Regions from separate parts of the Homo sapiens genome. Here region 2 is linked to region 1. Evidence: fine-mapped expression QTL. A gene starts in region 1. The other region holds a variant in brackets. All regions are shown on one strand. Distances are from middle to middle. Region 1 holds the start of SERPINE2 (serpin family E member 2). Region 2 holds the start of LOC124907990 (a long non-coding RNA gene).

The links. PIP is the estimated chance that this variant, and not a neighbour inherited with it, causes the effect.
Region 2: its variant is fine-mapped to the expression of SERPINE2 in whole blood (INTERVAL, PIP above 0.99). The same link has a PIP of 0.9 or more in blood mononuclear cells.

Annotation. Positions count from the first base shown.
Region 1 is chr2:224,034,158-224,045,171 of GRCh38, reverse strand. SERPINE2 (serpin family E member 2) reads left to right here and starts at 5,886. Exons shown (of 9, transcript NM_001136528.2): 1 at 5,886-6,073. LOC124907991 (a long non-coding RNA gene) reads right to left here and starts at 5,770. Exons shown (of 2, transcript XR_007088103.1): 1 at 5,630-5,770; 2 at 2,680-3,454. RefSeq lists a silencer at 5,426-5,720.
Region 2 is chr2:224,005,148-224,016,161 of GRCh38, reverse strand. The region is part of intron 1 of SERPINE2 (serpin family E member 2); the gene reads left to right. LOC124907990 (a long non-coding RNA gene) reads right to left here and starts at 7,285. Exons shown (of 2, transcript XR_007088102.1): 1 at 7,005-7,285. RefSeq lists enhancers at 575-1,074, 6,165-6,740, 5,665-6,864. The variant C/T (reference allele first, on the strand shown) is at 6,005.

The DNA.
Region 1 (11,014 bases):
GCATGATGACATAAAAAATACAATTTTGATATAGGTGAGTAATTCTGATTGGGAAAGCCTTTAAGAACATAGAGAAAATGAAAAGATAATGCAAGAAAGGTGGGTTGGGGTTAAATTGTAGAGAGCTTTCATTGTAGTAAATTTTTATTAAGCATTTATGTGTCAAATACTCAGTTCTTTTCATGAATTAACTACACAATCCTCACATAGCCCTATGAGTGGGTTATTCTATTATTATCCCCCATTTTACAAAATGGACACTGAGGCTCACAGGTTAAATTACTTGAAAAAAATTGCGTAGTGATGAGACTGGGATTTGAACACAGGCAATCTAACTTCAGAGCCTGTGTTCATAACCTCTACAGAAGACTGACTAAACCAAGGAATCGGAACCTTCGTGATGAACAGTGGAATTATTTTAAGCTGGGGAGTGGCATGACCGAAAAAGCACTTTAGAAAGACTAAGCTGGCAGTTACAGATAGAATCTGGAAGCTGAGAGAATAGTTAGGGTGCTATTGGAGTGGTAAGAGTTTGAACTGACTTGAAAAAATGGAAGAGGGGTGACTCAGAGGGACTTGGGGGAAAAAATTTAAAAACTACTAACAGCACCTAAGGAATTGCTGGAAATGGGATGAATAAAAAAAAGAAAAGGGGCTGGGTGCGGTGGCTCACACCTGTAATCCCAGCACTTTGGGAGGCTGAGGCAGGTGGATTGCCTGAGGTCAGGAGTTCGAGACCAGTCTGGCCAACATGGTGAAACCCCCTCTCTACTAAAAATACAAAAAAGTAGCCAGGCATGGTGGTGCACGCCTGTAATCCCAGCTACTTGGGAGGCTGAGGAAGGAGAATCACTTGAATCCGGGAGGCAGAGGTTGCAGTGAGCTGAGATCATGCCACTGCACTCCAGCCTGGGTGACAAGAGTGACACTCTGTCTCAAAAAGAAAGGAAGGAAGGAAGGAGGGAAAAAGAAAGAAAGAGAAAGAAAGAAAGAAAGAAAGAAAGAAAGAAAGAAAGAAAGAAAGAAAGAAAGAAAGAAAGAAAAGAAAGAGGGAAAGAAAGAAAAAGGAAGGAAGGAAGGAAGGAAGGAAGGAAAGAAGAAAGAAAGAAAGAATTCATTCCCATCTTTGTGCTTTGGTGACTGAGATGGAAGTCATGTCTGTAAAACACATGGAACACAGGAGGAAGAACTGGTTGGGGGATGAAGATAATAAGTGGGTTTGACTTGTTAGGTGGGAGGTGATGGTGGGATATTAAGTGGAGGTGTCTGCCAGGCACTTGGAGATAGATGAGTGGTACCTTGGGATGGTGGCCAAGGCCATCTGTAGATATGGGCTTAGAATTCATCCAGAACTAAGCAAAGTTACAGACATTTAAGGTATGTCAGTTAGGCATCCTAGGTTGCTGGCAACAGAAACTGAATCTGGCTAACAAGTAGAAAAGTCTCACAGAAACAGAGTTCACTGTGGACCTCTGCTCAGACGGGACAGGGTCTATGGCAGCTCTGAGGTCCGGGTAGGAAGAACTCACAAATTCATCATTCATCAAGCTGAGATAAGTCAGCTGCAATTACTTTTTCATTCTTTTCAAGATTCAAAGAACTGGGAGGGAATCCAGTGAGCTTGGTCATATGCCCATCCCTTGGCTAGTGAAAGTAAGGATACCTTGATTTCCTTCCCAACAAAATGCTGCATAAAATAGAAGAGGTGTTTCCACTATCAAAAGGTGAGGAGGGGAACAAGTGTTGGTGGCCACAGATAAATCAATGTTCGTTCCACTGGGAGAGAGTGTGGAGAAAAGAGGAGGGAGCTGAGGACAGTCAACTGCATGGTGCCCACCTGTTGGAAGATTTGATGGAAAAAGGATAAAGGCAAGTTAAGGCATAGGAAGAGAGAAAATAGGCAAAGGAGTTTCCAAAAAATGGGCACACATATGAGAGTGAAATCCTGCCAAGGACTCAAAGGTGATAAAGAATGTTGAAAAACTACTGGGGTTGCCATTGGAAGCTATTGGTAACATTTGGGAGAGAAGGAGGGCCCGAGGAAGCGAGGAAGAAAAGGAGGGGAGCCCGATGATGGGGTAAGAAGATTGACCGAAGAGACCCATGGAAAAAGGGAGGCAGCATCTATTGTTTGGTGGTAAAAGGAAGGAGAGCAGCTGGGCTGTTGTTTGAAGGGGTCAGTATCACAACGACTCTCAGAACCTGGCTGTTACATCCTATTTGGTCACATATAAGTAGAAAATAATACCCAGCCCAGCACTTAGTAATGTCTTTTCTCTGAAGCTCTTGGTGAAAACTAGTGACGACAATAGCAAAGTGCAAACTGATGCTCTGGTTTAATCTGTTTCAGAAGTTACAGAAAGAGGAAATTGAATTTATTTGAAAGCCAACTTTAAAGGGAAATAAAAAGATAAATGTCTTTTCTAAGCTAAAAAAAAAAACCCCAAAGCAATGCAACAGTTTCAGAAACTAATTGTATAAGTGTACTGTTATTACCAGTCTCTTTTCCCCTGGTTGAAACAATCTTCCATAACAACATTTGCAACTATAATATTGCGTAACAAGCACTGTTACGGTGTAATGTCTTTTAAATAGGGGTTAGATAGGAGAGAAGTGAGTATCCATTATCTTATTATCATAACATCCGTCAGTCTTCCAGACAAAACACCATCATCCCACTGGGAGCTAAGGACGGTTTTTACTTAAACACAAGGTCATACTGTTTGGGTGCATGGGAGAGCAGTGGAGGTGGGGTGGGGGATTTTCATTTATTCCAAGGCACTCAACGCTGGACTTCTTCCAAGAGAGGAAACAAGACTAAATAGATCATTTGTTTTATTCTGTTTGGGCAGTTCTTGCATTTCTCCCAACTGTGGCTTATGGACACAAAGCCAAACTCAGAGCCTAGCTGGAGCTGGCTAAACTCCAGGTCAAAGGAATAAACAATTTGAAGCTCTATTTGCGGATTAAGGCAAGCCACACAATTGCAGGACAAAATGAAATTTCACTGTGAATGTGAAGTCACAAAGAAACAGCAGGTAGAAGTGTTAAATGATTTGGATTTCTCAAACAAAACCGAGGTAGAGGTAGGAAGGAAATGTGGATTGGAAGTACACATCTATGAGAAATGCATCTCAAAAAGGGTCAAATATTGGAGAATACTGGAGGAGGAACCTGCTGCTTGTGGGGACCAACTGAGGTAGGAACACAACATCTTTGGAACAGCCCCTCACGGTGGGTGTCAAAGAGCCTGGCCATTTGAGTGTCATGGAAAGTGTAGCTTGGGTCATTACTTCTGTCTCCTCTTGCTGGCATCAGGAAGGCTGGCCAACACCAGCCATGCACACTCAGTAACAAGTATAGTTGGTATTCCCAGCATATCCCACTGGCAGAATGGGTCTTTGTCTTCAATCACTTTCCTTTGGGAGACCTCATCGTTGGCCTCATCGCATGTCTAGCGAGAGAGAAGGGAACATTAGTGTCTAGGCTTACTTTAGCATATTAGTTAGCACTGCATCCACTGTGATTTCAGAATTGACAAGTCACGTACAGTATTGCTCAAAATGTTCCTTCGACACTACAGGAAAGAATGGGGAAGTAAATGTCAGTCATTAAAGTGTAACCCAAAGAGGTAAGTCCTAAGGACTTCTAACGTCTTTCATAGATGAAGAATTTGGACCCTATTTACACTCTAATTGGGAAAGCAAAAAAGGCTTGTTGTTGTTTTTTCTTGAAAAACATTGGCTCCTTCAAGACAAGAGACTGAAACTCTTCAAAATAGTAATTTTGTGCATTTCTCTCACTGGTTTGAGTAACTTTAGTAAAAATTTAAAGTTACACATAATTAACCAAAGTGTGTGAGATAGGAATCAACGTATCAATGTTAATATCCTGATTGTGATATTATACAATGGTTTTGCAAAATGTTACCATGAGGAAGACTTGGCAAAGTGTAAAAGAGACCTCTCTGAATCATTTCTTAACAACTGCATGCCAGCCTACAATTACCTCTATTACAAATTTTAATTTAGAAATGTGATTGAGACAGAAATGGATGCAGGGATTCTGGCACATTTTCATAATAATCTGGCTTCACCCACATTTCCCAGTTATTTCTCCAGTAGTTTCTTGAATGACTCCCTTCCATCTGGAAGAGGATACTCCCAGCTTTTCAAACACACTGAACGAGCTCATTCACACCTGTGGGCTTTCCCCCCTCCTTTGAATTGTTCCCAGCTCCAGCCCACACCGCCCTGACTGGACCAAGCACAATACTGTCACTGAAACAGTTCTTAGCATGTCTAAAAGTCACTTGGCTAGTAGTTCATCCACTCGTCAACAAAATTTATTGAGTAACTGCTATATGTGTGGTATGGCTCTAGGCACTAGGGATAGAGTGAGTTGGAAACAATATTGAAATTAGTTTCTCTTCCCTGGTCTCTGGGAGTATATTCCAATGAGAGAGAGTAGAAGAAAACTAGCAAGAAACAAGGTAAAAAAAAAATCAATTCATGATGAGGGTTATGAAGGAAGTCATAGGTTAGAGGGGATAAAGTGACTTTATCTCAAGTGGTCAGGGGAGGCTTCCTAGGGGAGAGGACATTTGAGTTGTGACCTCAAGTGTAAGGATGCAGACAACATAGAAGATCCTGGGACAAAAAGCATTTCAGGCACAGAGAATAAGAAAGTTACCCTGTAACTGAATATAAATATTTGGTATGACTGTAAAATAATTAAACAGATGCTCATTTTTGTAGACTGTTTGCTCCTTATTTTAGGACCAAGCCTCCCATAGCCTGTTTCCCTCTATGAGAGACTGAGAACACCCTTAGGCTGGTCCAGATTTTACACTTTTCAGAGCAACCCCTTCCCCAACACACACGTGCACACTCTGGCACGGCCACCTGCATGCCAAGGGGTGACTGCAGGCTGATCTTCCAAGTGGCTCTCATCAGTAGCTGTACCCTTAATCCAGGGCTGTGTATAGGGAGATTTACATTTCTTCCTCGCTGTTGGGGCCGTCTGCCTGCTAGCGACGATTCTACACTAACGGCTACATAAATTACTGTCATTAAAGTTGGGTCCTTGGGTCCCCAGAAACCTAACTAGAGGCAAAGGAGGAACCAACTAAGAGAGGTCCAGGTAACAGAGCCCGGAGCGGGACGGTCATTTGTTGCAGGCCCCTGGGGTATGTGCCTGTCTATCGCGCACCGGGTCCCAGCAGCAGTGGTTACCGGCTGAGAAGGGCTGGGTTCCCAGGACGCTGCGGGTACCTCATGCTATCACCATAGCCGGGAATCCAGTTTTCTGGTTCCCCTCGTCTGTATTTGCCTAAGGCGACTTGCCGCCGTTCCTCTGTCCCCTAGGCAGGGAGAAGTCAGCTCTAGGACACCCTGCAAAACGCCTCGAGGGGTTATCTGCCCCTTCCCGGCCGCGTCCTGGCACCGTTTCCCCATCACCCGGAGGACTGAGCGCTGTCTCAGGGCGCCCTCTGTCTCTTCCAGGGGGCAGCCAAGACGACATGCCCTGCGTCTCAGGGACGCGGTACGAGCCCTGGTATTCCCCCCGCCACCTCACACACCCCCATCCGGGAGACCCACGTGCAGCTGGGCCCGGGCTGGCGCCGCACCTCGGGGTCTGCGCGTCTCCCCGGCGCGTTCCGGGCGCAGCCCCACGACACGGACCCCTGGCGGGGCGGCATCCGAGAAGTCGCAGGCGGAGAGGGGGCGTCCTGGAGGCCGGGCGCGGGGACGCTGCGGCCCGCGGCCACACAAAGGAGGCGGCGGGAAGGCGGGGCAAGGCGGGCCGGGGGCGGGGGCGGCAGGAAGGGGCGGGGGCCCGCGCGGCGCCGCCGATAAAGCCCCCGCCGCCGCGGCAGCCAGCTTGCGCTGTGGGGCTGCCCGGGCTGCGCGGCGTCTGCAGGCGCCACCGCTGCCTCTTTCCGGCTGTGACCCTCCTCGCCGCCGCCGCTTGGCTGCGTCCTCCGACTCCCCGCGCCGCCGAGACCAGGCTCCCGCTCCGGTTGCGGCCGCACCGCCCTCCGCGGCCGCCCCCTGGGGATCCAGCGAGCGCGGTGAGTACAGGCTGCGCGGTGAGTCCCGGGCGCGGCCGGCGCTGCCCTCGGCGGGGGACGCTCCCCGGGGCTCCGCGCGCCACCGGCCCTGCTCCCTGACCTTGCGCCCGGCCGGGAAGCTGCGGGGCCAGCGGGACCCTGGGGCGCCGACGTCGGGGAGCAGAGAACTTTCTCAGCCTCCCGCGGGCCGCCTTGGCCGGGGCTGGGTGCTCGCCGGGCATCCCGGTCCCGCCCGCCGGGAGCCCCGAGCGGGACCCGGGCAGGGCAAGGCGGGGCCGCCCCGGGGTGGCGTCCAGTGATACCCGCAGCTGGGAGCACCGGGGCCGGCGTGGCTCCTGCCCGGCCATCCGAGCCGGCCCTGACCCTGAACCTGAGGTTTCCAGCTGCTCGCCGGCAACCCCTACCCCGGACTTAGGCTGCGCGCCGCCGGATGGGGAGAGACTGGCGCACTCTTACTTGTTACCTCTGCCTGGGCAGAGGGAGGTGACGCGCGGTGTGGGGAAAGCCTTTAACTTGGCCTCTGGCAGCCGATTTAACCCGAGCGAGCAGGTCTTTGCTATTTTCATCATCTGTAGAAACGGGAGTTGCGAGGCGGATGAGTGACTGCAGGTAAAATGAAAGTACGGTACTCAGAAATTCTGGAAGGAATTAGGCATTTAATGTGTCCACAAACTGAGCGGGGAAGGAAGGCTTCTATTACATAAGACAGCACTCCACCTTCAGGTATTATGGAAGATGCTGTTGAAGGTTTTAGTGTTTTAATGAACGAAACACATTCTTTGTGTGTGTGTCTCTGGAGAAATCTCGAATGCTGCTGTCTTGCTTTGGCTACTTTGCAGGGGACGTTCTTATATTTAGCATCAGCATAAAAAGGTGTTCGAAGGTGTGACTTCCTCTTTCAAGCCAAGAAGCCGTTTATTTGTCTGAATTGTTGTGGAACAATATATGTGATAATTGTGTACTTTGAAGATTTTATATCAAAACTTGAGCACAGATAACTGGAAGAATTGTCAACATTGCTAATTTGTATATCCTAAACCACACTTCGAAAATTGAAGACAGTTTCAACACTATCTGAAGGTCTAAATCAGTACTTATTTGCTATTTGCAGTATTTCAATAGAAAAATTTTTGGCTATGCAAATGAAGGTACTAACCTGAGTAATCTAAGGTTTCTTTTAACCCCCAAATTTTGATTCTTTGTTAAAATAATGTTTGAAAATATCGTACCATGCAGGGCAATTACTGAAGGTCATGAAAATGTCATCGTATTTTATTCTAAAAACAAAAATGAATCTATGCAGAAAATTTCCGTGTCCCATGAACTTCATATTAGTTTAATTTTAAAAGTACTGTCTCCAAAAAAAGCTAATTTTCACTTCCACACAAGGGTGATTAAATACCAGTCAGAGATTGTTTGAGGTGGTAGAGTTGGAAATGAGGTGGTGACCTGGCCACGTCCCTGGGTGCATCTCAGCCTTGCTGTCCTCTTCCAGCCAGTTCTTTTCCCATCGCATGGGGACTTTGGCTCTTGGGCTATTTCTCCTCCTCTAGACCTAAAGTCCATGTGGGGGACGCTCTAGATGCGCACTTCCTTGACTGTCTCAAATCCAGTGTCTTCCATGTACTCCAGCTACCAAGTCCTCTAAGTACCTCCAAGTCTTGCCCTCTCTTGAGATGCTCAACTTCTGAAAACTCTTAGTGCCTCCAACCCGCAAGCTCCTTCCTTCCGGGTTGCAAACCGGACTCCCACTGTAATCTTCAATGCAAGCGATCTCCAATGCTTTTCCTCTTGCGGGTTTGGCAGGTGACTTTGTAGCCCATTCTACCAGGAGAATAGAGGTCATAAGTATCTCCTCACGTCCTCCCCCATCTCCCCTGTACAGACTTTTCTGTGTTTACCCAGTCATCCAATAAATCTTCTTAAGCATCTACTGTGTCTGGGTACTTTGTTGGATACTCATAGGTGGTAAATAGAGCAGATCCTTGCTCGCTTGAAACTGTCATTCTTGTGGGAGAAAACCAACTAAAAGCAAACATAATATGTTGTAAAATGTATGATAAATGAATAAGGTAGAATTATAAAGAAAAATCAAGTTAGACTGAGAACTTAGAGAAATATAGAGAGATGGCCTCCTTGGGGCAGTGACTAATGTCTCCAGCTGTGTCCTGAATCCCAACTCCCAGTGCCTCTCTCTCCTTGTGAGTGTTACTCCCTTTTCTTACTTTTATCTTCAGTCTCTCCCTGTGAGCTTTTTTCTTTTTTAGTAGTATTTTAAGAATGCCTTAACCTCCCTTGTCCCTGCATCCTCAGCTCACCTGTAGTGACAACCACGTCTCTCCAGGCTTCTTAAACTGGTCTGCCCTTCCTGTTCAGCTCTTTGCAAGCTGGCCAGAGTCTCCTCAAAGTTCAAGGCCTGTGACTTCCTGAACAAGCAATCTTTTTTTTTTTTTTTTAATTTTTATTAATATGCTTTAAGCTCTGGGGTACATGTGCAGAACGTGCAGGTTTGTTACATAGGTATACACGTGCCATGGTGGTTTGCTGCACCCATCAACCCATCACATTAGGTATTTCTCCTAATGCTATCCCTCCCCTACCTCACTCCCCGCCCCCCACCACAGGCCCCAGTGTGTGATGTTTCCCTCCCTGTGTCCCTGTGTTCTCATCTGAACAAGCAATCTTATGGATACCCACTAGGTTTCTCCGTGGCATTTGATGAGGTTCTTCTATTCCTTTCTGATGGTTTTTTTTTTTTTTTCCATCCCTGGTTGCCACCTTCTGGTTTTCCTTATTCCTCCCTGGCATCTCTGCTACCTCTTGGGGTTACCCAGGGTTCGCTGTCATCCCTTTTGTGCTCTGTGTATTTGGGTGAACCATGTTCCCACAGCTTCGACTCTCACCAATATGAAGCGAGTCCCAGATTGGCATGTTAAGCTAGCTTGAGCATGCTCCTGTGTTCCAATCAGTTACCTGCAGTCTGGTGCGCTTACCCGTGCCCTTTAGGCCAAAAAAACACCCCAAAATAAATCCAAAATTGATTTTAGTTTTCACCACCCACCCCATATCCGCTTCATTGTTAGCGAAGATTTGTCCGTTTTTTTTTGGCAGTGGTTCCACCGTTCATGGAGATGTTGGAGCAGGGGTCTCACGGTGATGCCAGGCTCCCGCACTGCCCACATGCAGGCTGTCACCAGATCCTGTTGCTTCTTCATGCTGTGAAATTCCACAAAGGTCCGCTCTAGTCACGCTGGCCTTGCCTTGCTTTAGAGCCCAAAAGTGGCAAAATGGTGGCCGGTGTGCCACTTCTAGCAGTAGGCAGCAGTGTTGTTGGCCTGAACAAAGTATATACAACTTGAGTTAATATTTAGAAATCTGGAGATGCCACTTGGATGTATAGCTTCTCCTAAAAGCCAGAAGACCTGGATGAGGCAGTGCGTGGTGGCTCATACCTGTAATCCCAGCACTGTGGGAGGCTGAACCAGGCGGATCACTTGAGGTCAGGAGTTCAAGACCAGCCTGATCAACATGGTAAAACCGCGTCTCTACTAAAAATACAAAAATTAGCTGCGCCTATAATCCCAGCTACTCGGGAGGCTGAGGCAGGAGAATCGCTTGAACCCGGGAGGCAGAGGTTGCAGTGAGCTGAGATGGCGCCACTGTTCTCGAGCCTGGGTGAAAGAGTGAGACTCTGTCTCAAAACAAAAACAAAAACAAAACAAAAAAAACCTGGAATAGGAAGCTTACATTCCCATGTGGCAAACCTCAGCTGCTGCTGGGTTTCCAGTGCCTGAATACACTGGAGGTAGGTTGCTTTCTGGTTCCCCCAGACCTGTGACCCTTGCTTATAGTGGCGTTCTGGCTCCCATGGGCTTCAGAGCTAGAGACCCTAGGCTGAGACGATCATCGACAGCCTGGGAATGCCTAGTGCTTACTGCACAGTGTCGTGCACCTCATGTTGCATCCCTTCTAACTCTCTTCCATGTTATTGCTGGTGTGACTTTCCTCCTGCTGCCCCAAATCCAAGTCTTCTTGGGTCCCTCCTAATAAAATTCAATGGCTCCCTCTTGATCTGGGCTTAAATCCCTGACTCTAAAGGAGTGGCCATGTCATATCACAAGTTTGGTATCTCAAGATTGAAAGATGAGCTCTCCGCTATCTTTATACAGTGTTGTACCCGAGTTTCTGAAGATGCTTTTGAGCTTCTGTAGGGTAGTTAATACAGAGTTCTAGTGTTGATGACAGTCCTGCTGTTTACAAAGCATTTCTACAAGCCTGACTACTGCCCCACTTCCTCGCAGCCCCCCTGGGTGGAGATAGGGCAGGGTCGATTCTATATCCCAAACAGCAGTGGGGAGTCTGTAAATATGGAGGCATAGGCCATCCCAGGGAGTCCCCCACCCTTGGAACATGGGGAACCTTGTTTTACATGTGGTATCCAGAGTCATACAGTGTGTTCCTGAGGTCATTTAGACACCTTAGGGCAGAGTCTTGACCCAGAACTCAGTTCCTGTCAGCATGCAGCCAGGGAACTTTCCACAGTGCTCCATGGGCTCACCAGGCTGCTGGCCATTTGTAATGACCCAACAGAGTCAAAGCTTTCTTCACTCCCTTCCCATCTCCTTGCCTTGTCCCCTGCCTGAAACATTCTTTTCTTGCAAAACTGAACCTCCCGTAAACTGCACTGGTACCGCCCAGTGCTTTTCTGCCTTTGCTCCTTCTGTACCTCTGCCTGGAATTCCCTTTCTCCTCCTGTGTTCATTGTCTGGCTGATTTCTCCTTTTTCAAGACTCAGGCTCAAAAAGGCCTTGCTGGCAGTCACCACCCCAGCCCTCTGTGGCACATGTGCAGTGTACACACACGTCACCCCTCCCCGTGCCTACCTCAATGATGGCAGTTTTTTGTGTTGTAGCAACATGCCCTATCCAGTAGACTCTAAGC
Region 2 (11,014 bases), 29 kb after region 1:
GAGTGATCCAGTTTCTCTGCATCCTCACCAGCAATTGGTGTTGTCACTAGTATTAGCCATTCATCTGGACATATAGTGACATCTCATTGTGGTTTTAAAAATTTGGATTTCCCCAGTGGCTAATGATGTTGAACATCTTTTAATGGACGTATTTACCATTTATACATCCTCTTTAATGGAATATCTATCCATGTCTTTTATTTCCTAATCCGATTTTTTTTTACAGTTGGGGTTTAAGAGTTTTCTGTGTAGTCTAGATACTAGTCCCTTGACAGATACGTGATTGGAGAATATTTTCTCCTAGTCTCTTCATCATCTTTGCAGGATCTTTTGCAGAGTAAAACTTTTCATTTTGATGAGGTCCAATTGATCAGTTTTTCAGTTTATCAGTTTTTCGTTTTATGAAACTCAGGCTTTTAATGTCAACTTAGGGTTTTGATTCCTGCCTGTTGTCATGCGCAGTGCCGGGTGGTGAGAAAGAGAGCCATGGAACAAGATAGACACTGGAGTGTGAATGATTCTTCCAGTTTCTGTCCGGTTGGGTTCTGCAGTATGTCTTGATGAGCTGCCTATTTGTTGGAGTCATGGACACAGAGTTGCCCTTGTCTTGCAAAGGCTGTAAGGTGATGATGGTATGAAAGGAAAAATATTTCCAGAATAATCCATGGTACCTCCCAACACAAGGTTTGTTTGCACTTGAGAGCTTCTGTCTGGAATACTCTTCCTTGCTTCCATCTCTCCGCCCCTTTGTCCAGTCACTTCCAGTCCATCCTCCAATGTCTGCCCATGTGGCCCTTCCCAGGAGCACTTCCCTGGCCACTGCCTCTCACCCTGGCCCAGGTGTGCCTCTGCTTCCATTCTTACACACTCTCCTCGATGTCAGAGCATTTGTAAAGTAAATACGTGAAAATGAAAGTAAATATCAAGTAATAAGACGATTTGATTAAGGTCTGTTTCCCCTCTAGACCAGGCTTCCCCAACCTTGGCACTACTGACATTTCGCTGGATAATTCTTTGTTGCAGGCGGCTGTCTTGTGCATTGTGGGTGCTGCTCAGCAGCACCCCTGGCCTCCCCCCACCTAGCAGATGCCACGGCACCACCCTCCCTGGCCCCCACCTACCAGATGCCATGGCACCACCCTCCCTGGCCCCCACCTAGTGGTGAAAACCAAAAAAAATGTCTTCAGATAGTGCCAAATGCTCCCTGAGCGACAGAGTCACCCAGGTGGAGAACCATGCCTTGAGACTCTGAGAGGTGGGAGGGCAGGTACCAAGCCCCTTTTCATGCCTATTCTCTCTCTAGCATCCCAGCGCCAGGCCTGGCACTGTGGTGCTTCATTAATATTTGTAGGATAAATTAAGGGATAAACCAACTTAATAGGGGACACTTGTTTACACGGCAGCCTTGGAAATGCTACCCTGACTTCAAAGGAACAAAGTGGGTTTTGTTGGGCACTTGAGACCCAGGAGAATCTAGAGTCTTCTGTATTCAGGTGGATATGGGTTTCCTTATGCAGTACCCAAGACAGCCCCCACACTGAAGAGTTATGTCAGTAGTGCCGAGATAAAGAAAGCCTGCTCTAGGGCACAAGAGAACACACATTCCCACTCTCGCCCCAGGCGCCACACAATGATCCCTCTGACTTTCCCTCTGACTTTCCTTAGTTTAGAATCAGAGTCTCCGTCTGAAGTCCTAGACTGTTTCTCATCAATGCAATGACTGCATTGATACCAATTTACCTAGTGGTTCTCCCTGGAATTTTTCTTTTTTTCTTTTTCTTTTTTTTTGAGACAGTGTCTTGATTGTTGCTCAGGCTGGAGTGCAGTGGCATGATCTTGGCTCACTTCAACCTCTGCCTCCTCGGTTCTAGTGATTCCCCTGCCTCAGCCTCTTGAGCAGCTGGGATAACAGGTGTGCGCCACCATGCCTGGCTAATTTTTGTATTTTTAGTAGAGATGGGGTTTCACTGTGTTAGCCAGGATGGTCTCGATCTCCTGACCTCAAGTGACCTACCCACCTTGGCTTCCCAAAGGGCTAGGATTACAGGCATGAGCCACCTCGCATGGCCACTCCCTGGAATTTTCAAGCCAAGGCTTCTCTATTTGGGAGAGGAAGGAATGAGGCCAGTTACTTTTGTGTATCCTAGAAGGGAAAGGATGTGGTACTGGTAATTGAAGCTTTGGCCTGCCAGCCCACCTTATCCAATTTGTCAGCCCAGGTTCATCTACATCCTGTTGAGAAGTTTGGCAGCTGGAGGTGGACATGCACACACTACACTGAACCTCCTGCAACAAGCACTGCGGAAGGTGTGAACCCCAGGCTGAGTGACTGGGCAGCTGTTCCTCTGCAGGAATAGAGGAGCCCCAGCCTCCTGACACGGTGCACCTCCTGAAACCCACAAAGCAGCAGTAGGGAACCGTGGATGACATTACCAGTCCTCCCCACCTACCGCCTGGTCACTCCTTACAGGCTGCCTTTTTCTTCCTAAGCCAAAGCCAGCTCTATCATTCAGGTTCAGGAAACAGAACAGCCAGCCACTGAGAGAAAAACCTAAAACATTCATATATAATCTAAATTATTCTTACAACCACTGTTCTTACTCCCTGGGAGCTTTCTAAACCAATTTTATCCAGTTACCTGCTTAGCTAAGCAAAACGGAGCCCAAACCCCTGCTTCCCTCCTCTTCCTCGTGAAAAGGGAGCAGGACCCAGCTAGAGGGAAAGTGCAAGTGAACACTGCATTAGGTCTCCAAACCGCCCTGTGCAAGTCACCCCAGAAAGGCCACCTGAAGGAGGGCCTGTCCTGTCTGCTGGGAGGCCCTCTTTTTCTCACAAGGAGAGTCCATGCCTTATGGATAAACAGAGATGCCTTTTCTAGGCTGTGAGAGCACCACTTTGGCAGTGTTCATGGAGGATATGGGGTTTTATCAGGCAGGAACTCAGCAGCTCCCACGTTCCTATTTCAGTGAGCCGGGGAGAAAGGCAAGGAAACCCAACATATATTGAGTTACTACTATATACCAGGTACTATGCTAAACACAGAGAATAAAAAAATTAAGTCATAATCCCCACCATTAAATATCTAATATGTAGATTTGGCCACATACATAGGTCAAATCATGTTCACCAAAATAACACCACCATTTACTGAAAAAACTCAACATGAAATGGTCTGTGGGTTGTAATGGGGTGTAACATTCATCTTAGTGTATATAAAAAGATTCCACTTTATTATTTCTCAACTCTTTCTCCTTTTCCAGTAAATACCATTTTTATTAAAGTTTTATGATCCTTTGGTTTAGCCACTGTTGTGCTCCATAACCTTCTCTGCTCCCCTTTAGAACACATTTCAGCTATTCCAGAGTCTCAGTTCCTGATAAAAGGAAAAGGGATGCTTGTTATAAGTGGTGATTTCATTACAGAAATTTTGAAGGCTACATAACGGTATACAGAATAATAAATATTCATATTCCCACCATCAGAAATAACTATATAGATATTTTAATATCTGTCCTGTTAGTCTTTTTTTGTGCCTGTGTATAATTTTTTTTTTTTTTTTGGGATGGAGTCTCGCTCTGTCGCCCAGACTGGAGTGCAGTGGTGGGATCTCGGCTCACTGCAAGCTCTGCCTCCTGGGTTCACGCCATTCTCCTGCCTCAGCCTCCCAAGTAGCTGGCACTACAAGCACCCGCCACCACACCTGGCTAATTTGTGCCTGTGTATAATTTTTACATAGTTAATTATACCATACTTTTTTCCAGTTAAGATATATCCAGAATGTATTACCATGTCTTTAAGTTTTCTTCAGAGATAGGTTCTTAACAGCCAAAGGATATTGTGTTGGATGGATGTCATTAACTGTTCCTTATTGTTGGACATTTTAGGTTATGTTCTCCCAGAAGCAATCCCTGAGCCAAGCATAAAGTGCAAGTGATTCATTAGGAAGTGCTCCCAGTTGAAATAGTAAGGGAAGGGGAGAAGTGGGAATTAGAAAGGGAAGAAACCAAGCAAGAAATACCAGGTGAAGTCCCACACTCAGAGCTCATGGGGAGCTCTGGAGAGTCAGTTAACAAGCAGACCAGTAGTCAATGGCTGTTAGTCCTCAGGGAGGGAGTGGTGTTTGTGAACTCTCAACCACTTAGGGCCAACCAAGAAAGTGGCCTTCAACTCCCACTAGTAATTGACCGAGGTAACAGGTATAAACCATTAGCAACAAAGCAGATAAAAACTAGGAGATAAGTGCACAAAGCTGGTAAAAGGTCACCCACAGTGTCCCCTCCATTGGAGATTTAATTTGCAATTATAATTGCTATTGCAATTATTTATTGCAGAGAATATTGCAATACTTTTGCTACTGAAAATAATAGTAAACATTTTTGGACCTGAATCTTTTTTATTATCACATTAGGATTGATTGATAGAAGGGGTATTACTGTTCCAATAGATAGATACATTATTAAGATTATTTATGCGTACTAGGGATTGCCTTTAAAAAAGATTTTTAAAAAATCAATTTACATTTCTAACACTTGACACTCATTTTTTAATTGGCAAGAATCCAGAGAGTGTTAGTTTCTCGTCTCTGAATTGGAGGCCCATAGGCATATCAGGGTTATTCTAAAGGATCAGAGAAATCATGTTCATGGCCCAGTTTTGATTATAGATTGATAAATAATATCTCAAAATATGATTTCTTAAAATGTATCTAGGTACTGATAAAAAGAATTTGGATTTTATTGACATGTTTAAGAATTCATGGTTGTATTTTATGTATTTTTACCAATACTAAAAACATGGTCATGAACTATGTGTAATATTTTTTATGTCTAAAAAAGGTACTTCCATGTCTCTTGCTGAAGAGAGAAATTAAAAAGGTACTTCCTTGTTTTTAAAGATTGAGAACCATTGGTCAATGTCACTATAATGTCTTGGGTCACCTCTTGGTTGCTGGATTAGGAAATCAGCCATTTGGACCATTACGTCTTAAAGACATATCAAAAAGAAAAGTCTATAGGACTTGATACATAGGTAAACCAGATTTAATGATCTGAGTCAGCAGACCGAAAAACATATCTCAGCACTATTAAAGGTTTTCTGGGACATACTCACCCCTCCCCCTCCATTCCCACAGTAATGGACCCCTCAGTTCTCTTACAGAGACGGCAAAACGCACCAGCATTGTCTTAATTTATTTCTGAGTCTTAAATAGTCTAAGGAAGTTATAAAGATACAGACAAGGCTTTATCAAGGTAGCAGTGTTTGACTGTTTTCTTAGCTTGATCCTTGAGACTTTCTAAATGGTTGCTGAAATACAAATCAGAGTATTTCAGGTCTTGAGCATTGAAGAGGACCAGAAGAAGAGAGCCAGCATTTACTGAACACTTGCTCTGAGCCAGGTATTAGGCTGGTTACTATGTCTTTCAGTTTGCACCTATTGAATTTCCATGGCCACCCTTGAGATATGATTTCTAATATGGCAGAGGACAAAGCTAAGACGGATGAAGATTGTGACTTGCCTTGGATCTCTTGGTTAATGGGTAGTAGGATTGGAATTTGAACTTTAGGTGAATTTTCCCGGAAACTTAGAGGAAAATAGAATGAATATCCTGTAATCTTGAATTTTAAAAGACAGACTGCTAACAAAGCTCTAATCCCCTCCTTCCCCCTAGCCTTTTCCCATCAACCCAAAGAGATTTCAGAATGGATAATATATGGATAAAAGGCACTTGATGTCAGAGTGTACTTTATAATAAAATATGTGTCTTTTCATTGAAGGGACCATTTGGATGTTGCTGCCATACTTTTCAGCGGCTGAAAAGGTATTTCCTAAACATTTTTAGGTTCCTTTTTGGCCAAATTAATTAGTGTCATAGAATGAGCATACACTTTGAAGGCAGACAAAAATTTAAGAAAAAATTCAGATGTCTCTAAGTCTTTCTCCACTAACCTGAAAAACACATTTTAAAACTACCAAGCTGCTGTCCCCTTGATAAGTTGGCATTTC[C/T]TGTTTGTTCTCTAAATTTTAAAGATGCTGAGTCATTTTGCTAGTACTTAGTACACTTCCCAAGGATAACCAAGATGTACTTTAGTTTGCTTGTTCACCTGATTTGGTATCATAAGAAAATGTGGTAGATGTTTGGAAAATGAATACAGGTCTTGGTGGACATTATTTCAGTAATGCTTATACAGATTTGAGAGACAGAGACCATATGTGAGGCTTAACCCCGATTACTTGTACATTAACAATTACTGTCATCTTACAGAGACAGCCTTAATCTCCATGGCTCACCTCCTGAAGAGTTTCTAGAATGCCTCTTGCCAAACACCGTTGAGTGTTGGCAAAGTACTGATGAGAAATGTTTGGTCTGAATGCTGGACAGCACGATTTTACTTAAGGCCATTCAGAAGTCTCAGTTTGGCAGCCACAAACCTTGCCTGTACATTTGTTTTGTTGTTGTTTTTTTTTTGAGACAGAGTCTCACTCTGTCACCTGGGCTGGAGTGCAGTAGCACAATCTCGGCTCACTGCAGCCTCCACCTCCTGGGTTCAAGCGATTCCCACACCTCAGCCTCTGGAGTAGCTGGGATTATAGGCATGTGCTACCACACCCAGCTGATTTTTGTATTTCTAATAGAGACAGGGTTAAGCCATGTTGGCCAGGCTGGTTTCGAACTCCTGGCCTCAAGCACTCTGCCCACCTCGGCCTTCCAAAGTGCTGGGGTTACGGGCTTGAGCCACCGTGCCCGGCCTGTACATTTATTTCTTTGGGAAGCCCTGGCAGGAAAAGCTGTTGAGAGATGTCATGATTCGGACAAAACATACCTGCTGTTTTTCTCTACCTGCTGTAGCCCCTGTAGATTAATAAGGGGCCTTAGGTTCCAAGAACCAGGATCCTAGCAACACAGAGACTAGAAGGATGGCGAGACTTTCCCAGTGCCTGAGAAGGTGTCAGCTTTCACTGAGGGGCGGGGAGGGGAGAGGCTGAGATAAATCCGGGGACTCACCTTGCCGTGCTGTGTGTCGGTTGTTTGTCGCTGGCATCTGCACTGTTAGGATTCCATTTTTAGGCTGGGCTTGATTCAGGAGGCTCGCTGCTGTCACACGAGGGCAATCCACTTTGATTCTCCCAGCCCAGCTTTTAATGCCCAGCAGACTCCTTTATCTTGTCATCATCCAGCGAGCCTCCCTCGGTCTAGATGGCCATGGGAGGCAAACCCGTTCAGTGTCAGCAGCTGGTCTTTCATAATTTGATTTTCCAGTGATGTTTGAGCCATCGGTGTGAAACAGTCACCAGTCTGGCTCTCATAATTTGAATTTCAGTATTTGGATATATTCCAGAGAGTGGTGTAAATGGACTTTGGATTTTCCTTATCACTGTTGCTCAGCATTTCCACAGTTTAAAACATTTAGGGTTTATTAGATAAGGGTGCTCAGTGCTACTGTTTCTCACTAAAAGGAACCAGAGCTCCCTGGAGAAGTGGCTGATTCCATCTGGAACAGAAGATGTATAAAATGAGCCTAAACATCTAGTCAAACCGGAAAGCAAGGAGGCTAACAAGACTGTAGGGTTGTATCAGAAGGTTTAAGAACGAGTGTGAAGAGGCTCATTTTGAGCACCAATAAGAATAAATTTGCAGTGGATCGAGACCCTTAAAGTATGTTGAAAAACACGAGTTTATAGTGATACAGAAAATAGAACCCTCTGGTCAATCAACCTATTTTGAATTATTTTGAAAACTGTTGGATATGGGAAATGAATGAAGAATTTGTCCTGCCCTTGTAACACAAAATAAACCTCAGGGCAACCAAGTAGTTGATTATGGAAAACTTCTTTTTATATAAATATTCTAATTAATAAGTGAGGGAGGAAAGTTAGAATTATAACAGCACCCACATTTGGTAACTCTTAATAAAACAGTGCACTTAGGCGGTCATCATAAGTAGCTTGCTAACACCACAAAAAGAGACAGTCAGCTACCGTCTACTGATTTCACCACCCTCTACGGCACCTCTACAAAATATTCTTACAAAAAGAGAAAATTGACTTGAATCTGATCAGTCCCTACAGCTGGGGTCAGCAGGCTTTTCACGTAGAGGGCCACATAATAACTGTTTTTGGCTTTGCAGGCTATACCGTCTCTCTTGCAGCCGGGCACCTCTGCTCAGCTCCCTATCATAGCACAGATGCAGCCATAAACAAAGAAAAAAGCGTGGCCAGATCTGGCCCATGGGCCGTAGCTTGCAGACCCCTGCTCTAGCTCTAACAGTTTACAGGAAGGACAGAAGACAGAGAAACTTGTTGAACAGCATGACATTAATGCAGTTAGCAAAATCTACCCTGGGGAAACTCTACAGGGCAAATAACCTGTTTTTTTCAACAGAAAAAATTCCAAGGTTAAAAATGAAGCAACTAGTGGAAGATGAAACAAACAAACAACCAAAAAAACAAAGGCAAGAGGTGTAACCAGTTGCAATGTATGGAGCTTACTTAGATCGTAATTCAAATATACTATAAAAAATGCGAACATGGACTAGATATTTGACATGTTAAGGAGTTATTTTGCGGTGTGATAATGATGTCATGGATATCTATTTTAAATCCTTAGGCTGAGTCTATATGTTGAAATTATTTTGAATGATATTATATGATGTCTGCAGTTAACTCCAAAATCATCTTTGATTTGAGTAGAAATAAACCAAGCCGTGAGTTAATAATTGTTTTTTCTGGATGTTGAGTATGGGGGGGAGTATTAAATATTTGCATATGTTTGATATTTCCCATGATATAATGTTTTTAAAAATATATGTATGTTTTATAAAACATGATCACTTTAAACCTTTTATAGAGAATGAGAGAGCATGGAGAACTTTTCCTTCATTAGACGCTTCTGTGTCCTCCCAAAATAGGTGTGCACCATCCAGCTATGAATGGACCCAGAAGAGTCTTTCCAGTGGTTTTTCCCACCAAGCTGTCTGCCTACAACTTACTTATTATGCTACATAGAGCAGACTAGTGTCATATTATTTATCATTTGTTCATGCACTATATGTAAACTTTTATTTCATAAAAAGAATTTATTAGGTAGAAAATGAGCTTCATGTTTTGTGTCTGGCTATCCTAGTTGCCACTGTTCAGTTGTTCAGCACTGGTTCCAGGCTAAGGGGTCTCGTCACAGGTGCTCACACAGCCTGGAGAGGTGATGGCAGTGGCGGCCATGGCAGGGTGTGAGGCAGCAGGGAGCAGCGGGAGCGAGGCACGCTGGAAAGTGGGTGCCCAGCCCATAAGGGGTGGCGTCTGTGCAGAACATTTGCCATGGGGGTGAGGGTCCAGTAGTACTAGAACGTCCACTCTTTTTCATTTTTCCTGAGAATAACCCTAATCTAGACTTGTGACATTTTTTGACTTTTAGTTGCTAAAAATATTTTTAGAATACTCTGTATTGCACATCAAACACTTGCTGGATTAGTCCCACGGGTCAACCTCTGATTTTGTGTCTACCAATGAATGGTAAGGCCCTAAACTGACCCTGTGGGCACCAGGAGTCTACAGTCCCTGCTTTCCGTGAGCTTCCAGTCTACTTGCGAGGAAAGAAAACATACTTGGAAAACAACTAAAATGAGACAGGCAAATAGGAAATGCTATAGGAATTCAAAGAAGAGAATAAAGAACCTCATCTTTAACAATCAGGAAAAACATCACACACACCGTGGAAGGAGTTGGGTAGAAGTGTCACTGTTGCTAGGTGGAGGCTAAGGGAGAGAAGCAGAGGCTCGGGCTTGGGTAAGCAAGCTCTTTCAACAGAAACTATGATTCTTGAAAAAGAGAAGAGTTGGTAGATTTTTGGAGACTAGTACCCCTCCCCACCAGTGGATAATTTTTCTGAACGATCAAGTGAAAACAGGTAGCAAACTGTTGAAAGTATAGCACTGCAATTCAGCAGAGAGTTTGAGGATTTGAGCTGCATATTTGAGCATCACCTGTGTAGAAGAGATGGTTGACGCCATTGGGTCTATAGAGAGTGGGTTCCTCTAATGTCTGCTATTGGCAAGCAGTCTATTTATAAATGTTAGGGTTATATTTTGAGTCTGGCATTTGCAAAACTACCATCCCATTATTTACTACGTTAAATCATGGTTAAAACTCAAAGCAGTACCCAGCTATTTCATAAACATTCCCCGTATTGGAAAGGAGAAAGGTTTGAAGTAAGAGAAACTAGAAGAACATAGGGAAGGAGATACCTGGCATTTGGAAGGATATGCCTGTGGCGATGGCTCTACTGATGGGCTTATGATCTTCCCTCCAATGATGGCCTAGAGACCTATTTTTACTGTTGTGAAACAATATTCAAGCAAATGATAATCTTCCATCTTGTTGCTATGCAGTACATTTGGGCAGCACTCTTATTTCTCTCTGATTTGAAAGTTTAAAGTGTAATTTCTCTTAAAAAGGAAAATAAACAGGAGGTTTCTATGTACTTCCCATTATGGCATCTGCTTGTTCCAGAGATCAAGCATTTCAAAGCTTGAGAACTCCAAGTTACTTCATGTAAACGATTGTCTATTTGGACATGAGTGTGTTTCATTGTTAGGAATTATGCAGGCCTAAAGTAATTTATAGATCAACACCCACTCTCCTGGCTACTGAACTTTGGAGAAAAATGAAAGCTTATTCTTAGACACGTATATAAGCCAGGTGAGTTTAGACGAGTGAGCATTTGGCCTAGGAAACCAAGGCCAAGGAGAAGTTCTGCCCAGCACATCAATCAAAAATAGCTCTGATTCCAAGTTCTGCACAGCTCTAACACTGTCCCAGTGCACTTTTATGAAACTGTACATAGACAGCTCTCAAAAACTTCCCAAGTCCAAGAAACCCAGAAAAACACCCATAACAGCTTTCTTCCGTGTCATAGGAAAACTGTTCTTTTAGCGAAAATTTATAATGAAGCAGAATTCTGCTAAATAAGATGGCTGTTTATTTGGGAGACTGTCCTTGTGACTTTAAGACATTGGAGCT